2 linked regions of the Homo sapiens genome follow. The protein of the gene in region 2 interacts with the protein of the main gene of each other region in a pairwise test. Each region holds a gene or a part of one and is shown on either strand. Other genes may lie near its edges.

Region 1 (3,500 bases), on a different chromosome or scaffold from region 2:
GGATAGAAAATGCTTGTGACCACGTGAATTTTCACCCACTTGAATAGATTACTTTATAATTTCATCTATTACCCTGAAGACAGAATTCAATGTCATTCTTACCTTTATATTGTCTTCTCACTCAGGTTCCTCCCATTAAACCTTAACACATAGTTCAGTAAATAGAAGGTGAACGAATTAGTGAATGCATACCCCGTTTTTGCCATCCTACTAGCTTCATAAGAAGCCTAATATCACATGCATAGATTTGTTGAGTTCTGGGATAAATTTTTTCTTATTTGTTTTACCTTCTTATTTTTCAGTCACTGGAGGAGGATCCATGGCCAAGGGTGAATTCTAAGGACCATATACCTGCCCTGGTTCGTAGCAATGCCTTCTCAGAGAATTTTTTAGAGGTTTCAGCTGAGATAGCTCGAGAGAATGTCCAAGGTGTAGTCATACCCTCAAAAGATCCAGAACCACTTGAAGAAAATTGCGCTAAAGCCCTGACTTTAAGGATACATGATTCTTTGAATAATAGCCTTCCAATTGGCCTTGTGCCTACTAATTCAACAAACACTGTCATGGACCAAAAAAATTTGAAGATGTCAACTCCTGGCCAAATGAAAGCCCAAGAAATTGAAAGAACCCCTCCAACAAACTTTAAAAGGACATTAGAAGAGTCCAATTCTGGCCCCCTGATGAAGAAGCATAGACGAAATGGCTTAAGTCGAAGTAGTGGTGCTCAGCCTGCAAGTCTCCCCACAACCTCACAGCGAAAGAACTCTGTTAAACTCACCATGCGACGCAGACTTAGGGGCCAGAAGAAAATTGGAAATCCTTTACTTCATCAACACAGGAAAACTGTTTGTGTTTGCTGAAATGCATCTGGGAAATGAGGTTTTTCCAAACTTAGGATATAAGAGGGCTTTTTAAATTTGGTGCCGATGTTGAACTTTTTTTAAGGGGAGAAAATTAAAAGAAATATACAGTTTGACTTTTTGGAATTCAGCAGTTTTATCCTGGCCTTGTACTTGCTTGTATTGTAAATGTGGATTTTGTAGATGTTAGGGTATAAGTTGCTGTAAAATTTGTGTAAATTTGTATCCACACAAATTCAGTCTCTGAATACACAGTATTCAGAGTCTCTGATACACAGTAATTGTGACAATAGGGCTAAATGTTTAAAGAAATCAAAAGAATCTATTAGATTTTAGAAAAACATTTAAACTTTTTAAAATACTTATTAAAAAATTTGTATAAGCCACTTGTCTTGAAAACTGTGCAACTTTTTAAAGTAAATTATTAAGCAGACTGGAAAAGTGATGTATTTTCATAGTGACCTGTGTTTCACTTAATGTTTCTTAGAGCCAAGTGTCTTTTAAACATTATTTTTTATTTCTGATTTCATAATTCAGAACTAAATTTTTCATAGAAGTGTTGAGCCATGCTACAGTTAGTCTTGTCCCAATTAAAATACTATGCAGTATCTCTTACATCAGTAGCATTTTTCTAAAACCTTAGTCATCAGATATGCTTACTAAATCTTCAGCATAGAAGGAAGTGTGTTTGCCTAAAACAATCTAAAACAATTCCCTTCTTTTTCATCCCAGACCAATGGCATTATTAGGTCTTAAAGTAGTTACTCCCTTCTCGTGTTTGCTTAAAATATGTGAAGTTTTCCTTGCTATTTCAATAACAGATGGTGCTGCTAATTCCCAACATTTCTTAAATTATTTTATATCATACAGTTTTCATTGATTATATGGGTATATATTCATCTAATAAATCAGTGAACTGTTCCTCATGTTGCTGAATTTGTAGTTGTTGGTTTATTTTAATGGTATGTACAAGTTGAGTATCCCTTATCCAAAATGCTTGGGACCAGAAGTGTTTCAGATTTTTTAAAATTTTGGAATATTTGCTTTATACTGAGCTTTTGAGTGTTCCCAATCTGAAATTCAAAATGCTCTAATGAGCATTTCCTTTGAGCATCATGCCTGCTCTGAAAAAGTTTCTGATTCTGGAGCATTTTGGATTTTGGATTTTCAGATTAGGGATGCTTAACCTGGATTAACATTCTGTTGTGCCATGATCATGCTTTACAGTGAGTGTATTTTATTTATTTATTATTTTGTTTGTTTGTTTGAGATGGAGTCTCACTCTGTCATCCAGGCTAGAGTGCAGTGGCGTGATCTCGGCTGACTGCAACCTCTGCCTCCCGGGTTCAAGTGATTCTCCTGCCTCAATCTCTCTCCCCAGAAGCTGGGATTACAGGTGTGTGCCACCACACCCGGCTAATTTTTTTTTTTTTTTTTGAGATGGAGTCTAGCTCTGTCATCCAGGCTGGAGTGCAGTGGTGTGATCTCGGCTCCCTGCAACCTCTGCCTTCTGGGTTCCTGCGATTCTCCTGCCTCAGCCTCCTGAGTAGCTGAGATTACAGGCACGCGCCACTGTGCCCAGCCAATTTTTGTATTTTTAGTAGAGATGGGGTTTCACATGTCAGTCATGCTGGTCTTGATCTCCTGACCTCGTGATCCACCCGCCTCGACCTCCCAAAGTACTGGGATTACAGGCGTGAGCCACCGCATCCGGCCTGAGTTTTATGCTTTCAATGTATTTCTTACATTTCAGTTCAAGTGATTTTCATGTCTCAGCCTCCTGAGTAGCTGGAACTACAGGTGCGTGCCACCATGCCTGGCTAAGTTTTGTATTTTTAGTAGAGATGGGTTTTCATCATGTTGGCCAAGATGGTCTTGATCTCTTGACCTCATGATCCACCAGCCTAGGCCTCCCAAAGTGCTGGGATTACAGGTGTGAGCCACCGTGCCCAGCCAACTATGCCATTATTTAACCATGTCCACACATTCTGGTTATTTTCAATATTTTGCAGAAGATAATTCTTGATCGGTGTGTCTTATGCCACAAGGATTAAAATATGTATTCATTGCTACAAAACAATATCTCGAAATTTAGCAGTTTAAAACAACAAATATTATCTCCAGTTTCTGAGCCTCAGAAATCTGAGAGTGGTTTAGCTGGGTGATAGTCTCGTGGTTTTGGTCAAGCTACCAACCAGGGCTACAATCTTTCGAAGGTGTCATTGGGGCTAGAAGATCTGCTTCCCGCAAGACTCACAGCTGTTGGCAGGAGACCTCAGTTTGTTGCCACATGTTCCCCTCCAGAGGGCCTCTCACAACATGGCAGTTATTTGTCCCCAGAGCAAGCAACACCGGAGGGCAAGGAAGAAGCCATGATGTTTTTTGTAACCTAGCCTCTGAAAGTGTCATACCAATTCTGTATTTTGTTGGTCACACAGACCAAGTCAACTACAACGTGGGAGACTCCTACACAAGGCATGAATTCTAGGAGGTGGGCATTTTTAAGTGTCATCTGGAAGGAGGCTGTCACAACCTGGAAGTTAAAAGCATTGATATTCTGAAATACAGCGTGTATAACATTGTTTTAGTAGGGTGTGCAATAGTTATGTTTTGGTAATAGCATTAATGAACAATGTTATT
Region 2 (3,500 bases):
TTCTGCCCCCGAGCACCTGTCATCTTGGTGGGCTGCCAGTTGGACCTGCGCTACGCTGACCTGGAGGCTGTCAACAGGGCTAGGCGACCCTTGGCTAGGTAGGAGGTGCTGGTACCAAGGAGACAGACATGGATGGGTGCCTCACCATGGCTCCCTGCTCAGCCCTGGGGGAATTCCACTGAGCCTCATATCTCTCCCTCCATTTGGAGCAAGCTTGCATTGGGAGTCAACAAGCATGCTCATTCATTCATTCATTCATATACCTGTTGCACACCTCTGGTGTGGGCAGTGCTATGTAAAGCATCATGAAGAAAAATAGAGAGGAAGAGGTGATATTTGCATGAAAAAGTCCTATAATTTTGCTGAGGGATAAACTAAATATGTGAGCATGTTAAATACCCATGTGAAGCATTGCCTGCTAATTGCCAGAGAGGCAGTGCTGTCACGGCTTTGTACTGGGGAGGTCACTGGGGCCTGGCATAGTAGGGAAAGCTTTCTGGAAGAAAAAGGGCTTGGAGTGGACCTTGAAGGAGCTTGATGGGATTTGGCCAGACAGAGCAGGGCAGGAGTGGGTGGGGATTGGCACCCAGATCCTGAGCAGAGTCCCTCCAGCCTGTGGAAGAACAGGCAGCCTCCCTCCACCACCAACACAAGCTTGGTTTCCTTCTTGAACCTACCAGGCCCATCAAACCTAATGAAATCCTGCCCCCAGAGAAGGGTCGGGAGGTGGCCAAGGAGCTGGGCATCCCCTACTATGAGACCAGCGTGGTGGCCCAGTTCGGCATCAAGGACGTCTTTGACAACGCCATCCGAGCTGCACTCATCTCCCGCCGCCACCTGCAGTTCTGGAAGTCCCACCTCCGCAATGTGCAGCGGCCTCTGCTGCAGGCACCCTTCCTACCCCCCAAGCCACCGCCCCCGATCATCGTGGTGCCCGACCCTCCCTCCAGCAGCGAGGAGTGCCCCGCCCACCTCCTGGAGGACCCGCTCTGCGCGGACGTCATCCTGGTGCTGCAGGAGCGGGTGCGCATCTTTGCCCACAAGATCTACCTCTCCACCTCTTCCTCCAAGTTCTATGACCTGTTCCTCATGGACCTGAGTGAGGGGGAGCTGGGGGGCCCCTCGGAGCCAGGGGGCACCCACCCAGAGGACCACCAGGGCCACTCTGATCAACACCACCACCATCACCACCACCACCATGGGCGAGACTTCCTGCTCCGAGCAGCCAGCTTTGACGTGTGCGAGAGCGTGGATGAGGCTGGGGGCTCCGGTCCTGCTGGCCTCCGTGCTTCCACCAGCGACGGGATCTTACGGGGCAACGGAACAGGGTACCTACCGGGCAGGGGTCGTGTGCTGTCTTCCTGGAGCCGAGCTTTTGTGAGCATCCAGGAAGAGATGGCAGAAGATCCTCTCACCTACAAATCCCGGCTGATGGTGGTGGTGAAGATGGACAGTTCCATCCAGCCGGGGCCCTTCCGGGCTGTCCTCAAGTACCTGTACACGGGGGAGCTAGATGAGAACGAGCGTGACCTCATGCACATTGCCCACATTGCTGAGCTGCTCGAGGTCTTTGATCTGCGCATGATGGTGGCCAACATTCTCAACAATGAGGCCTTCATGAACCAGGAGATCACCAAGGCCTTCCACGTCCGCCGGACCAACCGGGTTAAGGAGTGCTTGGCAAAAGGCACCTTCTCAGGTATGGAACAGGCTTGGAAAGCAAGGGGGTTCTGCATTGGTGCTATTAGCATTGCCTGTCTGTCTCAGCTCCTGGTGTCCTGGAGCTGCGGCTGCCATGCTCTTGAAGCCTGGTTTTCCCCAGCTGGGAGCGGGTTTGTTCCGTGCCCCGAATCTTCTGGGTTCAGGAGGAGGCTCCGTGGCTCCCCTTGGGGCTTGTTCTCCCAGCTTCTTTCACCAGTCCTCCTGTGATGCTTCTTCTGGACAGATGTGACCTTCATCCTGGATGATGGCACCATCAGCGCCCACAAGCCCCTGTTGATTTCCAGCTGTGACTGGATGGCTGCCATGTTTGGGGGGCCATTTGTGGAGAGCTCCACCCGGGAGGTAAGGCTGAGGACACAAAGGGGGGAAGGAGGGAGTGAGACATTTGCACCCTTTACATCTGAGGCACTGCCACTCAGGGTACTTTCTTCACTGACTGTGTGCTAACCACAGGGTGATGGGCCCAAGAGAGGTTTATGAGGTGGTTCTTGGAGCTAAGGATTATACAATACACCAGGAAAGGGAATTACACTGACACCTCAACTTGAGAGTTTAGAAAGCACTTTCTGTTCATTATCTCATTAAATTCACACGCAACGTACACATGTGCCACTCCTGCCGTATATCTAGGAAAGGGAGCCCCTGAGAAGTTAAGTGACTTGTATGAAGTTGGAAGTAGAGTTAGGACTTGAACTCAGGACTTCCATTCCTTGGCTCTTTACTTTGTACCTTACTGCCTCCCTGACACACTTGAAACAACTGAATGCATCACTGTTTTAAAAGATAGGTTTTATTATTATTGAGGTGTAGAGAGGCCCACAGATTGCAAGATGGCTGTCATTGATAAGACAACTTGTTACAGATCCCAAGAAAAGGGGGCATGCCACAGCACCATGGCTGGGGTCACATGGGGAAGCTCTGGGGTCAATCAGGAGGCAGAGGGTTTCTGTGGGAGGGAATGGGCGAGGCAGGTTGAGCAGGTTTAGGATTAGCTGTTTGAATAATGTTAGCCGGCTCTGGGGCCTGGATGCTGTCTCTAGTTGTCTGTCACCTGGCTCTAGGGGGATTAGGGCAGGGGAACAGTGGCCTGGAGTGTGAGGGCCCATAGGGGAGGTAGTGGGCTGTGGGCTCTGGATTGGTTGGTTTGCATATGAAAGGCACACTTGCAGGCAACTCCTTCACTATCCCTAGGACTTGGCCAGCCCTGAGGGAGGCAGTCCCTATAGGGCCAGCAAGGCTTTAGTTGTCAAAGCAACAAAATACAGAAAATAGGTGTAGGGGGTGGCTTACACCTGTAATCCCAGCACTTTGAGGGGCTGAGGTGGGAGGATTGCCTGAGCCCAGGAGTTTGAGACCTGCCTGGGAAACACAGACACCATCTCTACAGAAAAAAAGAAAAAAAGAGAGAGAGAGAGAAAAGAAGGAAGGGAGGGAGGGAGGGAGGAAGGGAAGGAAAAGCATACTTAATAGAACCACCTGCCTCTCTAATCAGTGACCCTCTAGCTCTCACGATGCCACCACTTTCTCACTCACCTAGATTGGAAACTTAGGGTTGGAAGAAGCCTATCAATGTGTCCTTAGAAATATTCTCTTAGGTTTGGTCTCTTTTCCATTCCAAGCAGAGTAGCCTGGGCAGTAGCCCTTGGTGTGCTCTGAACTCCTGGACCTCAATTGCCCATCACTGAGTGTCGTCGAACCTTGTAGTTAACGAGGTTCGACTTTGTGCAGGCGCGTGGAGTTCTGAACGTCCACACCGTTTCCCCTACTGTTCTGTAACT

What was found. The genes of interacting proteins can lie anywhere in the genome.
Region 1: the proteins of RHOBTB2 (region 2) and PPM1D interact in a two-hybrid assay, tested with the Homo sapiens proteins (one large-scale study listed by BioGRID and IntAct).

The regions. Positions count from the first base shown.
Region 1 is NC_000017.11:60,662,693-60,666,192, forward strand, and holds part of PPM1D (protein phosphatase 1D), read left to right. Parts: intron 1-302; coding exon 303-860; 3' UTR 861-3,500. UniProt on the Homo sapiens protein: Involved in the negative regulation of p53 expression. Required for the relief of p53-dependent checkpoint mediated cell cycle arrest.
Region 2 is NC_000008.11:23,006,048-23,009,547, forward strand, and holds part of RHOBTB2 (rho-related BTB domain-containing protein 2), read left to right. Parts: coding exon 1-98; intron 99-680; coding exon 681-1,699; intron 1,700-1,945; coding exon 1,946-2,064; intron 2,065-3,500. UniProt on the Homo sapiens protein: Regulator of cell proliferation and apoptosis. It likely functions as a substrate-adapter that recruits key substrates, e.g. MSI2, to CUL3-based ubiquitin ligase complexes for degradation. Required for MSI2 ubiquitination and degradation.